Linked DNA regions of Homo sapiens: region 1 is linked to region 2. A link means that fine-mapping ties the variant in region 2 to the expression of a gene that starts in the linked region. Tissue or cell type: whole blood. Region 2 holds a variant in brackets; the other region holds the start of a gene. All regions are shown on one strand. Distances are between the middles of the regions.

What was found. PIP is the estimated chance that this variant, and not a neighbour inherited with it, causes the effect.
Region 1: it holds the start of CCN2, and the variant in region 2 is fine-mapped to the expression of CCN2 in whole blood (INTERVAL, PIP 0.91).

What each region holds. Positions count from the first base shown.
Region 1 is chr6:131,946,532-131,954,638 of GRCh38, forward strand. It overlaps CCN2 (cellular communication network factor 2), which reads right to left and starts at 4,841. Exons shown (of 5, transcript NM_001901.4): 1 at 4,576-4,841; 2 at 4,239-4,461; 3 at 3,761-4,012; 4 at 3,418-3,629; 5 at 1,645-3,029. The coding sequence starts at 4,641. The coding sequence ends at 2,733. All of the region lies in intron 2 of CCN2-AS1 (CCN2 antisense RNA 1), which reads left to right.
Region 2 is chr6:132,179,358-132,187,464 of GRCh38, forward strand. No RefSeq gene overlaps it. Among named protein-coding and RNA genes, the nearest start is that of LINC01013, 51 kb to the left of the region's middle. The variant G/T (reference allele first, on the strand shown) is at 4,425.

The DNA.
Region 1 (8,107 bases), 230 kb before region 2:
GGCCAAACCCCTACTAGATTCAACAGCTGCTGTCAGCCTGGCCTTCTATATATCTAGTGACTACCTGCTGGCTGTTTGAGAGCTCTCGTGTTCTCAGAAGCATCAGATACCTTGTTGTTTCTCTGCTTTTCTCACACATGTGCTGACACGGTGCAGATCTTACGGTGGTTGATGATTTGGCACCCCCTACCTCCGATATTTGGGGGGTGAAAGTGTGCATTGCCATCTAATTTTTGTAGAAACATTGCCTGTGGGATTTTTGTTTTGCAATCTAGTGACTCTTTTTTTTTTCTTTAATGTGGGTATTTGGAAAATGTGAAATCTATGCTTTTCCTGCTGCTTCTATATTTCCAGAATGCTCTAATTCAGTAGTCAGTCTCGTTTATCATGCATGGCCCTTCATCTTTGCAGTTAGGAATTAATTGACAGAAAGGAAGTGTGAACTAACAGTGTACTCTGTGTGTGTGCCTATGTGTATGTGTACATGCGCATTTATTTGGGGAGGTGGGGTGCTGCTCCTGGCAGCACTGCTATATACAGATGTGGGTGTATCCTTAAAGCCCAGAGTTTTGACCATAAATTTTCACATTCTGAACACGGGAAGTTTTCCCTTTGGTTTGTGGTGTGGACAGTTGTTTGTAGAGCTAGTCTTTATTTTCAGGTGTATTTTTGTCTGTCCAAATGACATTGGCACTACAACGTTGCTAATTACCTTGGGAAAAGTTAGTCTGTCTGCAATTTTTTTTTCCCCTAGAATCCTCAGCTATCCTCATGTGGAGAAGATTCTAGTTGCCTTTGGTGTATTGCTTTTGTTTACCATTCACTTTGGTTCACTCTTTAGTAAAAACCTACCTGGGTAGGTACAATATTGTTTCCACATGAGGCTTCTTGAACAATTCCATTTTCTCATGTATAAACCACTTGGTAAGGTAGGATGCATTAATCTGGAAGTCTGATAAAGCTAAAGACTTGGGCAAATGGAGGAATTACTTTCAAAACAAATTTCTATTAATGTTAATGAATGGAAGATTTGCTCATCCTCCCTTTTCTATTTATGCCATCTGTTTGTCATTGGTTATCATGGCAACCAAAAACGGAATTATACAAAACAAGACTTATGAAATAGCTCCATTTAAATGAGGATTTCATTTCATAATTTTCAGATTTAACAGTAAGGTAATGAAGTTCAGAAACAGACCTAGAGCATAAAATTTTTAAAAAATGTAAACATTTTCCACGTGCAAGGCACATAGACTAGTTTGTGATGTGAAGGGTTGGAAACTAACCTATAACGGCCAGAGAGGTACAAATGCCAAAAGGACCAAGTGTAATACAACAGGGTTAATGGAGACTGAAGTAATCTAGAGAGAATTGAATTTAAAGTGTCTATAAAGTTCTGTGAAGATAACAAAAAAAATGGCTGTATAGTCAATGTGGTGTGTATGCCTGCAAGTCTGTGATACTTGATTCAGTGTGAAGTATGTTTACATAAAAATTCTATGGAATAATCAATTTATTAATGTATAGAATAATTAAAGATATTTAGAAAATTATTGGTGAATTATCTTATGATTAATAAGAACTTCCTATTTATGCTCAAGAAAACTCAGAAATGTTTAGAAGGATAAATGAATAACCAAGCCCTTTATAGAAAAAATATACACTTTATTTTCAACTAGAAAGGTGCAAACATGTAACTTTTGGTCACACTCTCAACAAATAAACTGTCCGAAAAACAGTCATATCAAAGTAGAAACAAATGCTTCCAGGTGAAAAAACTGATCAGCTATATAGAGTCACTCAGTTTTTAATAAAGGCCATTTGTTCATTAAAAGTGAGGCTACCACATTTCCTACCTAGAAATCAGCCTGCCAAGGACACTGATGCCTCCCCTTTGCAAACAATCTGTTTTGACGGACTGTCATTCTATCTGAGCAGAATTTCCATATAAGTATCCATTTCATGCTTTGAACGATCAGACAAGCTTTACATTCTACCTATGGTGTTCAGAAATTGAGGCTAACATTGAAATATCAAAGCATTAAAAACAAAAATAAAAAGGCACAAACAACTTTAAATTAACTTAGATAACTGTACATATATATATATATACACACACACACACACACACAATATTTACAATATAAATTTTAAAAAATCTGGCTTGTTACAGGCAAATTCACTTGCCACAAGCTGTCCAGTCTAATCGACAGGATTCCGATTCCTGAACAGTGTCATTCGAATCAGAATGTCAGAGCTGAGTCTGCTGTTCTGACTTAAGGAACAACTTGACTCAGTCTCTTGATGGCTGGAGAATGCACATCCTAGCTGTCACTGGGGCTACAGGCAGGTCAGTGAGCACGCTAAAATTTTCCTTCTCAATTACACTTCAAATAGCAGGCATATTACTCGTATAAGATGCTATCTGATGATACTAACCTTTCTGCTGGTACCCTCCCACTGCTCCTAAAGCCACACCTTAATATACATTCTGGTGCTGTGTACTAATGTAGTTCCACTGTCAAGTCTTAACATTCTTCAAACCAGTGTCTGGGGTTGATAGACTATTTGTTTGACATGGCACAATGTTTTGAATTGGGTGGGAATCTTTTCCCCCAGTTAGAAAAACAGATTTAAATAACTTGTGCTACTGAAATCATTTTTACGGAAAAATGAGATGTGAATCAGTTCAAGTTCCAGTCTAATGAGTTAATGTCTCTCACTCTCTGGCTTCATGCCATGTCTCCGTACATCTTCCTGTAGTACAGCGATTCAAAGATGTCATTGTCTCCGGGACAGTTGTAATGGCAGGCACAGGTCTTGATGAACATCATGTTCTTCTTCATGACCTCGCCGTCAGGGCACTTGAACTCCACCGGCAGGGTGGTGGTTCTGTGGGGGGTGCAGCATCGGCCGTCGGTACATACTCCACAGAATTTAGCTCGGTATGTCTTCATGCTGGTGCAGCCAGAAAGCTCAAACTTGATAGGCTTGGAGATTTTGGGAGTACGGATGCACTTTTTGCCCTTCTAAGGAAGACAAGGGAAAAGAGAGAGGAAAAAAAAAAATCAGCGACTCTACAAGAGGAGTGGCTTTCTTCAACCCTCTGTGTTTTAGTCTTCTGTTGTCTGACTTCTGTTTATATTTTGAGGGGAGGAAGTTTGAGTCTCATTTGCTATGTCCAAAAATAGCCAGAGCCTCTCTTGGAATGTCTTGAATTAACTAACCCTGTGGAAGATTTCGTAGTGGAAAACTGGTGGTTGCTATTACACAAGCTCTCATTCCAGCAAAACAGCTCAATGGTTAGATAGTTTTGGAGATAACGGGCTTATACTAACAAGCGTGGCAAGAGCCCTAAGTTGGGTCCTATCCACTGTTTTTCCTGTGAAAAATAGTTAATAGGAGCAGAACATGTACCTTAATGTTCTCTTCCAGGTCAGCTTCGCAAGGCCTGACCATGCACAGGCGGCTCTGCTTCTCTAGCCTGCAGGAGGCGTTGTCATTGGTAACCCGGGTGGAGATGCCCATCCCACAGGTCTTGGAACAGGCGCTCCACTCTGTGGTCTGGACCAGGCAGTTGGCTCTAATCATAGTTGGGTCTGGGCCAAACGTGTCTTCCAGTCGGTAAGCTGCGAGAGCAGAGCACACAAACACCATGTAAAACGCCTGGATAAGGTATTTCCCCCGTTCGGTCGGCACAGTTAGGACTCCCTCCCTGGGAGAGAATCACGACCCTGACTTAGAGGAAGACTCGACTCACCCGCGAGGGCAGGCCCAACCACGGTTTGGTCCTTGGGCTCGTCACACACCCACTCCTCGCAGCATTTCCCGGGCAGCTTGACCCTCCTCGGGAAGGGGCAGTCAGGGCTGGGCAGACGAACGTCCATGCTGCACAGGGGCATGCAGCCCACCGCCCCGTCCAGGCACGTGCACTGGTACTTGCAGCTGCTCTGGAAGGACTCTCCGCTGCGGTACACCGTACCACCGAAGATGCAGGGAGCACCATCTTTGGCTGGAGAAGAGGAAGGGAAGAGAGGGGTGGGGGATGCAGAGGTCAGGCATTGGGGCACTCTCACATCCAGAGCGTCAGGGATGCGAGTTGGGATCTGGGCTGCAGGGGGCGGGCTGGCAGCAGCTGGAGAAAGAAACTCAGTCCGAGCGGTTTCTTTTTCCAGCGGGCGGGTGGGCGTGAGGGAGGAGGCGGCCGGACACCTAGCGGTGGGGGCTGCGGGTCTTACCGGTGCACACGCCGATCTTGCGGTTGGCCGGGGAGCCGAAGTGACAGAATAGGCCCTTGTGCGGGTCGCATGGGTCGCGCTCGGTGCACAGCTCGCCCAGCTGCTTGGCGCAGACGCGGCAGCAGCCGCAGCCGTCCAGCACGAGGCTCACGCCCGCCGGGCAGCGCGGCGCCGGCTCGTCCGGGCACCGGCACGGCCCGCTGCAGTTCTGGCCGACGGCCGGCTGCAGGGAGGACAGGGCGGTCAGCGGCGCTCGGTCGGCGCGCACGCCCTCCCCGGCCGGCCCCGAGTCCCTCCCTGGCAGCCGCCGGCCGCAGCGGGGGCTCCCGGCGCTTACCCGGCTGCAGAGGGCGAGGAGGACCACGAAGGCGACGCGGACGGGGCCCATACTGGCGGCGGTCATGGTTGGCACTGCGGGCGGAGCGGAGGGCGCGGTGGCGGCGAGCGGGGAGCGGCGGGGCCTGGAGCGCTGGCGGTGGTCGGAGGTGGGGACCGGGACGCGCCGGGCTGTCGTCTCGGGGCTGTCGGCCGGGGCGGCTGCCGTCGAGCTGGAGGGTGGAGTCGCACTGGCTGTCTCCTCTCAGCGGGGAAGAGTTGTTGTGTGAGTTTGGGGCGGGCGGCCCGAGGCTTTTATACGCTCCGGGCGGCCGCGGCTCGCCAATGAGCTGAATGGAGTCCTACACAAACAGGGACATTCCTCGCATTCCTCCCCACCTTCCTGCCTCATCAACTCACACCGGATTGATCCTGACCCCTTGACACTCAGCATTCCTCCGTCTGAAAAAGCTGGCACACTCCAGCTCACAGAAAAAAAAAAAAAGGAAAAAAAAAAGCGCAGTATTTCCAGCACCAAATAGAATTTTTTTTTCCCTATCCTCTTCGCACCACTCCTGATTCATATCATTTATAAACACACTGGCAATTATTTCTTATTTCTTTTTCGAATAAGTTTGCCCTGTTCTGTCCACTGACATACATCCTTTTTAGGAAGTAGGTAGCTGAAGAGGCAAACAGCAGGAATTCCTAAAAAATTCGAAAAGGTTTCTCCCCCCCAACCCTTAGCAATGATTTGCGTTTTAGAGGCTATAGGCTCTTGAAACTCTCCAAAGAGTAGAAAAGGAGTGAGTTGCTTTTAACCATTTGAAATCCTCAAGATGCCTACCTGTAAAACCCTGAATTCTATATTTGAGATTTGATCATTTGTCACTTGAGGTAACGGTTTTGGGACAAGAAAGAGAACAAAGACGCGTGTGACTCAGGATGCAGTCTCCTGGGGCAGATTTCCAAAACTCTTGCTTAGTTTTCTCTTAATATATGTAGGAGTTTTATATAGGCAAGGACAAGGGAGGAGTGGCCATCAATGTTTCCAGAAAAAGGGATCCATTGTTCTATCAGAGCAAATGATTCTGTGTTGGGTAGGTAGGGGCTCTGGGTGTCAGGGTGGGAACACTGGGATGCAAAGGGGGTTCACCTAGGAGCATTTAAACACAGCTTCACTAGGGTCTTTGAGAAATGAGTGCATTTTCTTATATTAAAACCTATAATCTTCAAATGTGGATTGGATTTGGTTTGTCTTGTTAAAATAAGAAGTCTGATTCCATTACAAGAGCAGTGTACCCTGTTGTATCTGGATATAAACTAAGATTGACAGTGAATAATATATTTTTAGTGACTCCCCACACATCTATGAATAGTGATTGTGACTTCTCATTACCCAAGGAACATGCAGCCTGAGGGAGTGAGGTCAGGACAAGGAAAGAATAGGCTTTATTCTCCCTGGGTGTGTGCAGATGTTGAATATGGCCAATAAACCTAAGCATATCTCCATTTCTTAATATAGTGCTACTTAGCTTCACTAAAGACCCAACTAATTCACTGTGCTTTCATTTGGAATCTATGTTGTTTAGTGGCTTTTTTGTTAATACCTCCAGTTCCCATTTTATATAAAGAGAGTGATTCTAGGGCCATACCATTTTTGTATTCTGTAATGCCGCATCATTTGACATTGGTGTTACCAATGAGTAGATTCCTTTAAGTTGTTGATGCTTCAGAGCATGGGTTCAAGATAAGCATATCTGTTTGTGGTGCAAAGATCGGCTTTAGAAACAATGCATTATAGATTTATCATTTGAAAACAGCCTGTTTAAACTGATCAAATTTTTAAAGTTTCAGTACAGTCTGTTGAAAAATAGCCAAGAAGAAATATAACCACTCCAACTTCAGCATAGAGCATATCATCTGTGCACGATTACCTCGTTAAGCCAGCCACATGTTATAGAGTGTAGTTGCATGTCAATAGTGTGAATGGCCAGCAAAGGGGTGGGGGTGCCCTCTGAAGCTCAGGAAGAATTTTCGTCATTGTTATTTAATGTCCTTTCCAAGCATTCCTCAAAAAGAAGAGGCCTAAGAGTTCCTATTTAAAGAAGGAACATTCCAAGTTAACTTAATAGCCACATGTGTATTAAAGGCAACTTGGCCCTCAACTTTTTCTTCCCTTGTGGATGATTTTAAAAGTCCAAAATATGTGGGAAGCCACAGTGAAACCTTTCAAGACCTAAACCCCCAATTACATCTACCTCTAATGGTTGGAAAGGTGTGGTGGCTGGGGAAGGGTAGGGATGTGCAGTGCGAGTCTCACCTAAGGTGGGATGTGGGCTTGGTGGTGAGCTCTCCTAGCTTGCAGAGTGAGGTAGGTGGGAGAAGGGTTGGGGAATTTCTGAATCCTCAGGAGAGTCTGAAAGCTACCACCATCTTCATGCCTGCAGCAGGGAGACTCATTCATGGAGGGGATAAATTGTTGTACTGGGTTATAGTTAGATGGCCTAGGTTGTATTCTTGGAACTGCCTTTCGCAGATCTCAGGGAAGTCACACGTAGGAGCCATATTCCCATTTCTGTTTAAAAAATGAAAGTAATCATAATTTTTTTAATTTAATAGGGTTCAGTGAGGGCTGAGTAGATGAAAATTCCAGGGAATTGGTGCTTTATTTTTTTCAGATTTTCTTGATTTTTTTTCAATCTCTGTGTATAATAAGTATATTACCATTCTGCTCTGTTGTTAAAAATGTCAAAAGAAAGAATTTGGTTTTACTATAAAATTCTCATAGTCCCTCGAAGTCTCAAAAAAATCTATAGTCAGTTCCAAATAGATGATTTTAATGTTGCTTAAGAGGAAATAAGCATATTGAAATATATAGAACATATGAAATCTCAGGAAAGAAAAAGTTTCTGTGCATTATCAGGTTAGATTGAGGCTTTATGATCAAAACTCTTTTTGAAGGAGTTAAAAGACTATTATTAAGAGAGTGACACAGAGACAGACAGACACATACATGCACACACACCCAGAGAGAGAGAGAATGAGAGAAGACACCCAAGACATTCACAGACTCAGAAGTATGTTTTTATTGTGATATGGACCATCAAATGCCAGGAAACTCAAAGGGAAAGGCTGATACTCCATCCATAATTCATGCCATGGGATCTGAATTCTTGCACTATTATCAATGACTCAGCAAATGTTTGTGTGTGCCTGGGCGGTAAAGTGGGAAATAGTGGCTTCTTATAACTTCATCCAACTTTGACTTACCCCAGCCCCTTTGATTGACAGCAGGTCAGAGTTGGGAGAAAAAGATCTTTGAATTTGTGTGCAAAATGGTTAAGATGCACTAATTTTGACTTGTAAGCAAGTATTTATCTAGCAAATGCTTTTTAGAGAGCATTTTTTCCTCGTGGTAAAATGAGGAATTAACTAAGCTGGCCACTGAGTCCTGTTTACCAAGCTATATAAGGTATGTGTGTGTGTCTACTAGGGCATCATTTGTACTGGTCGTTTGGTTAAGTCTTGTAAGATGTTCAGCTGTGGATGTA
Region 2 (8,107 bases):
AATAGAGAAAATAATAGCTAAAATTCAAGAATTATTTATAATCTTAAAATCACTTTTAGTAAACTAGAAATAAAAGAGGATTTCCATAATCTGATAAAAATCTTCAACAGAAAATCTACATCAAACATCAACCTTTGAGGCAAAATAGTAAAAGTGCTCCCTTTAAAATTAGAAACAAGGGGAGGAAAAAAATGGCAGACAGGAGGCAGGACTAACTTGCAGCTCCCACTTGGATTGACAGAGCAGCGTGTGGAGACTCACATCATGAACTTTTGCTCCAAGAACTACCACAAGAACATACCAGGAAAGCTGAGAGAATTCACAGATCCTTTGAAGGAAGCGGAGTGCTGCTGCAGGCCCCTGGAGACAGCTGAAAAACTATGAGTGCCCAAAGTGTGAAAGTGGGATCATGGGTGTCGGAATACACACCCTCAGTGGGGAGCCTGAAGGTCCATATCATGGGAGAAGGATTTGACCTTACCTGGAGCTGAGACAAATTTAGAGAGCTGAGCAAAATACAGGGTTAGAAACAACAGCAAGGAAAGCCCTGTGAGCTCTCCCTGTCAGGGGTCCTTGGGGAGGGCTGCCAGAGGACCTAGGAAAAGACCACGGGGAGAATAAAACTTCCAGCTTAACTTTGTAAACATTTTGACAGAAGGCAAAGTTTCCTGGACAGAACCTGGGGGAGGGGTGAATTGGAAGTACAGACACAGCACAGAGGCCATGGCAGGCAGAGAGGCAAGACCTGAAACCCTGCTTGCTTTCTCAGCTGGGAGGTGGGTAGCCTGGGGCAAGTTCTCAGCCTTGCTCACCTGCTGCCTGGAAATAAACTTGGTGCTGTTGACGGGACATGGTGGGAGGGAGACCAATCATTTGGGCTGCGTGGGAGCTGGGTGAGGTCTGTGACTGCCTGCTTTTCCCCACTTCCCTGGCAACCTGCATGAGGCAGCAGAGGCAGCCATAATCCCTGTGGAAACAACTCCATCAGCTGGGGAACCACACTTTGATCCCCCACAACAGCCAGAGGAAGCACTGCCCAAGGAAAGCCTGAGCTCAGACACACCTAACCTTGCACTCACCTGATGGTTTTTCTCTGCCTACCCTGGTAGCCAAAGACAAAGGACATAATCTCTTGGGAGCTCTATAGCCTCACCCACTGCCTGATCCTCTCTATACTACTGCAGCTGATGCTCTCCTGAAAGTACCATCTCCTGGCTGGAGGCCAGTGAACACAAAACTAGTGAAATAAACAAAACTGCAGCCAAGGACCCTCAGAGAGTCCACTTCACTCCCCTGCCATCTCCACTGGAGCAGGTGCTTGTACCTACGGCTGAGAGACCCAAAGATGGTTCACATCACAGGACTCTGAGCAGACACTCACCACTTCTAGCCTGGAGCCCAGCAGCTTCTCTGGGTGGCTGAGTCCAGAAGAGAAATAGCAATCACTGCAGTTTGGCTCTCAGAAAGCCACATCCCTAGGGGAAGGGGGAGAGCACCACATCAAGGGAGCACCCCATGGGACAAAAGAATCTGAACAGCAGCCCTTGAGCCCCAGATTTGTCTACACAAAAGAGAAGGAGCCAGAAAAACAATTCTGGCAATATGACAAAATAAGGTTCCTTAACATCCCCCAAAGATCACATTAGCTCACAGCAATGGATCAAAACCAAGAAGAAATCTCTGAATTACCAGAAAAAGAATTCAGAAGGTCAATTATTAAGTTAATCAAGCAGGCACCAGAGAAAGGTGAAGTCCAACTTAATGAAATAAAAAAAATGATACAAGATATGAAGGAAAAATTTTTCAGTGAAATAGATAGCATAAATAAAAAACAGGCCAGGCACAGTGGCTCACACCTGTAATCCCAGCACTTTGGGAAAATTAGGCAGTTGGATCACCTGAGATCAGGAGTTCGAGACCAGCCTGGCCAACATGGTCAAACCTCGTATCTACTAAAAATACAAAATTAGTTGGGCGTGGTGGCACATGGTAATCCCAGCTTCTTGGGAGGCTGAGGCAGGAGAATTGTTTGAATCCTTGAGGCAGAGGTTGCAGTTAGTCAAGATCATGCCATTGCACTCCAGCCTGGGCAACAAGAGCAAAACTCAATCTCAAAAAAAAAAAAAAAAAAAAAAAAAGAAGCAGAAGAAAGCAATCACAATATCTGGAAATGAAGGACTCAGAGAAATGCAAAATACACTGGAAAATCTCAGTGATAGAATTGAATAAGTAGAAGAAAGAACTTCAGAGTTTGAAGACAAGGCTTTCAAATTAGCTCAATCTAACAAAGACAAATAAAAAAGGATTAAAAAAATGAACAAAGCCTCCAAGGAGTTTGGGATTATGTTAAATGACCAAACCTAAGAATAAGTGGTGTTTCTGAGGAAGAAGAGAAATATAAAAGTTTGGAAACCATATTTGAGGAATAATTGAAGAAAAACTTCCCCAGCCTTGCTAGAGATCTTGTCATCCTGAAGAAAACTTCCCCAGCCTTGCTAGCAATCTAGTCATCCAAATACAAGAAGCTCAAAGAACACTGATAAATCTATTGCAAAAAGATCATTACCTAGGCACATACTCATCAGGTTATCTAAAGTCAAGATGAAGGAAAGAATCTTAGGAGCTGTGAGGGAAAAGCATCAGGTAACCTATAAAGGAAAATCTATCAGTTTAACAGCAGATTTCTCAGCAGAAACCCTACAAACTAGAAGGGATTGGGGCCACATCTTTAGCCTTCTTAAACAAAATAATGATCAGTCAAGAATTTTGTGTCTAGCAAAACTAAGCTTCATAAGTGAAGGAAAGATACCATATTTTTCAAACAAACAAATGCTGAGAGAGTTTGCCACTACCAAGCCAGCACTACAAGAACTGCTAAAAGGAGCTCTAAAACTTGAAACAAATCCTTGAAGTACACAAAAATAGAACCTCCTTAAAGCATGAATTTCACAGGACCTATAAAACAAAAACATAATGGGGGAAAAAAGATATCCAGGCAACAAATAGCATGATGAATAGAATAGTACCACCCATCTCGATACTAACATTGAATACAAATGGCCTAAATGCTCCACTTAAAATAAACAGAATGGCAGAAGGAATAAGAGTTCACCAACCAAGTATCTGCTGTCTTCAGGAGACTCACCTAACACATAAGGACTCACATAAACTTAAGCTAAAGGGGTGGAAAAAGATGCAGATGGACTCCAAAAGTGAGCAGAAGTAGCTACTCTTATATCAGACAAAACAAACTTTAAAGCAACAGTGGTTAAAAAAGATAAAGAGGGACATTATATAATGATAAAAGGACTAGTCCAATATGTGATATTTATCACATTCCTAAATATATATGCACCTAACATTGGAGCTCCCAAATTTATAAGACAATTACTAGTACACCTAAGAAATTAGATAGACAGCAACACAATAATACTGGGGCACTTTAATACTCCACTAACAGCACTAGACAGGTCATCAAGATGGAAAATCAACAAACAATAGATTTAAACTATACCTTAGAACAAATGGACTTAACAGATATTTACAGAACATTCTACCCAACAATTGCAGAATATACATTCTATTCATCAGCATACTTAACATTCTCTGAGATAGACCATATGATAGGCCACAAAATGTTCATTGGGTCACCCATGAAATCAAGATGGAAATTAAAAAATTCTTTGAACTGAACAATAATAGTGACACAACTTATCAAAACCTCTGGGTTAGAGCAAAGGTGGTGCTAAGAGGAAAGTTGATAGCCTTAATTGCCTATATGAAAAAATCTGAGAATACAAAGAGACAACCTAAGCTTATACCTCAAGGAACTGGAGAAACAAGAACAAATCAAGCCCCAACCCAGCAGATGAAAAGAAATAACCAAGATCAGAGCAGAACTAAATGAAATTGAAACAAAACAAAAACAAAGATAAATGAAACAAAAAGCTGGTTCTTTAAAAGGATCAACAAAATTGATAGACAGTTAGAGAGATTAACCAAGAAAAGAAGAGCGAAGATCCAAATAAGCTCAATTAGAAACAAAACAGGAGACATTACAATCAATACCACAGAAATGCAAAAGATCATTCAAGGCTGCTGTGAACACCTTTATGCACATAAACTAGAAAACCTAGAGGAGATGGATAAATTCCTGGAAATATGCAACTATCTTAGATTCAACCAGGAAGAAATAGAAACTCTGAACAGAAAAATAAGCAGCGAGATTGAGATGGTATTAAAAAAACTGTCAACAAAGAAAAGTTCAGGACCAGATGGATTCACAGATGAATTCTACCAGACATTCTAAGAAGAATTGGTACCAATCCTATTGACACTATTCCACAAGACAGAGAAAGAGGGTATCCGCCCCCACCCAAATCATGCTATTAAGCCAGTATCATCCTAATATCAAAACTAGGAAA[G/T]GTCATTACAAAAAAGAAAACTACAGATCAGTATCCCTGATGAACATACATGCAAAAGCCCTTAACAAAATACTAGCTAACCGAATCCAACAACATATCAAAAAGATAATCAGATAATCCACCATGATCAAGAGGGTTTCATACCAGGGATTCAGGGATGGTTTAACATATGACATATGCAAGTCAATAAATGTGATACACCACATAAACAGAATTAAAAACAAAAATCACATGATTGTCTCAATAGACTCAGAAAAAGCATTTGACAAAATCCGGCATCCAACTGTGATTAAAACTTTCAGCAAAATTGGCATAGAAGGGACATACCTTAACCTAAGAAAAGCCATCTATGACAAACCCACAGCCAACATTATACTGAATGGGAAAAAGTTGAAAACATTCCCCCTGAGAACTGGAACAAGACAAGGATGCCCACTTTCACCACTTCTATTCAACATAGTACTACTGGAAGTTCTAGCCAGAGCAATCAGACAAAAGAGAAAGAAATACATCCAAATCAGTAAAGAGGAAGTCAAACGGTTACTGTTTGCTGATGATACGATCATATAGCTAGAAAACCCTGAAGACTCGTCCAAAAAGCTCCTAGAACTGATCAATGAATTCAGCAAAGTTTCAGGACACAAAATTAATATACATAAATCAGTAGCTCTGCTATACACCAACAGTGACCAAGCTGAGAATAAAATCCAGATCTCAACTTTTTTACAATAGCTGCAAACAAAACAAAACAAAACAAAACAAAACAAAACAAAAAAACTTAGGAATATACCCAACCAAGGAGTGAAAGACTGCTACAAGTAAAACTAAAAAACACCGCTGAAAGAAATCATAGATGACACAAACGAATGGAAACACATCCCATGCTAATGGAAGGGTAGAATCAATATTGTGAAAATGATCATACTGCCAAAAGCAATCTACAAATTCAATGCAATTTCCATCCAAATATCACCATCATTCTTCACAGAACTAGAAAAAAAAGACAATCCTAAAATTCATATGGAACCAAAAAAGAGCCTGCATAGCAAAAGCAAGACTAAGCAAAAAGAACAAATCTGGAGGCATTACATTATCCAACTTCAAACTATACTATAAGGCCACAGTCACCAAAACAGCATGGTACCGGCATAAAAATAGGCACATAGAACAATGGAACAGAATAGAGAACCCAGAAATAAAGCCATATACTTACAGTCAACTGATCTTGATAAAGCAAACAAAAACATAAAGTGGGGAAAAAAACACCCTGTTCAACAAATGGTGCTGGGATAATTGGCTAGCCACATGTGGGAGAATGAAACCAGATTTTTATCTAGTTTATCTAGTTGTATAACTGTATACAAAAATCAACTCAAGATGGATCAAAGTCTTAAATCTAAGATCTGAAACCACAAAAATTCTAGAAGATAAAATCAGAAAAGCCCTTCTAGACGTTGGCTTAGGCAAAGACTTCATGACCAAGAAACCAAAAGCAAATGTAACATAAACAAAGATAAATAGATGGGACTTAATTAAACTAAAAAGCTTCTGCACAGCAATGGAAAAAATCAGTAGAGTAAACAGACAACCTGCAGAATGGGAGAAAATCTTCACAATCTATACACCTGACAAAGGATTAATACCCAGAACCTACAAGGAACTCAAACAAATCAGCAAGAAGAAAACAAACAATCCCATCAAAAAGTGGGCTAAGGACATGAAGGAGATAATTCTCAAAAGAAGATATACAAGTGGCAAAAAAAAGTATGAAAAAATCATCAACATCCCTAATGATCATGGAAATGCAAATCAAATCCACAATGCAATACCACCTTACTCCTGCAAGACTGGCCATAATAAAAAAAATTATAAAATAATAGATGTTGCCATGGATGTGGTGAAAAGGGAGCATTTTTACACTGCTGGTAGAAATGTAAACTAGTACAACTACTATGAAAAACAGTGTGGAGGTTCTTTAAAGAACTAAAAGTAGAACTCATTTGATCCAGCAATGCCATGACTGGATATTTACCTAGAGGAAAAGAAGTCATTATACCGAAAAGATACTTGCACACGCATGTTTACAGCAGCACAATTTGCAATTGCAAAAATATGAAACCAGCCCAAATGCCCCATCAATCAATGAGCAGATAAACAAATTGTGATATATATGTATACACACACATGTATATATGTATATAGATGTATATATGTGTATATATATATATATATATATATTCAGGGAGTGGGTGGGAGTGAGTGAGGGATAAATACACATTGGATACAGTGTACACTGCCTCAGTGATGGGTGCACCAAAATCTCAGTAATCACCACTAAAGAACTTATTCATGTAACCAAACACCACCTATTCCCCAAAAACCTATTGAAATACACAAAAAATAGAACTGGGAAAAAAATCAGAAACAAGAACAGCACTCCCATTCAGCATGGAATTCTAAGACAGTCAAATAAGACAAAAAGAAATAAAAATTCTGAGGTTTGGGAAAACAACTAAAATCTTTTTAATTGACAGATAGAAAAACTCAAAGGAATCCATAGAATTAGTAAGACAATATAGCCAAGTGCTGAAAAAAATTAATATACAGAAACTGTATACTTGGAATAAAGAGTTGGAAATAGCATTTTAAAATAAACACCATTTATTATATTAACACAAAATATAAGATGTGTAAAAACATATGTACCAAAAATATAAAGAGTTCATGGAGGAAACTTTTCAATATTATTGAGACATTAAAAGAGACATAAATAAGTTTAAATTTTGCCACTTTCAAGGAAGACTTGCTATTACAAGGAAGTCAATATCACCAAATAGCATACATGCAATTTTAATTTGAATTTCATAGAATTTTTTAAAGAAACTTGAGAATCCGATTCTGATATTGATGAAAGAAAAGAAAAGCCCAAGATTAGTTAAGAGATCCCTGAGATAAAAATAGTGTGCGATTTCCCCAGGAGACAGCAAGACTTTTTAAAAAGCCATGGCAATGCCAGTGTGGTATTGGTTTGCAAACAAAAAGGATACTGATAATAGAAATGAGAAAATACAAATAGACCCATACACATATGGAAATGCTGTGATTGAGAAGGCAGATCAATGGGAAAGTTGGGACCACTCAATATATGATGCTGGTTGAGTGGATTATTCATTTCAAAGAATATGAAACTAGAACCTTATCATACACAATTTCCACAAATCAATTTCAGATTGATTAAATTCTTAAATTTGAAAAGGTAGATTACCCAATTTTAGAAGAAAACAAGGAGAGTTTCTTTATAGTCATGGGGCTAGGAAAAGATTTCTTCAACAAGACACAAAAAGTACCCACTAAAAAATACAAATTTAATAACTTTGACTCATTAAAATGAAGAATTACCATTAATTATAAGAAATCACAACAAGTAAAATACAAGCCACAAATTAGAAAAATATATCAGCCATATATTAACAAAAGATAAAAAAACCAAATATCTCCTAATATCTTCTAATAAAACTCTTAGTGGCTATAAGAATAGACCAACGACCTAACAGAAAAGCATCAAAAGGCATTTTTTTTTCCAGAGGAGAAAGACTAGATGACCAAAAGTATATGGAAGATGTTTTAATCATTAACAATGCGGTAATGCAATTTAACAGTATAATGGGACAGTTTTATATCCA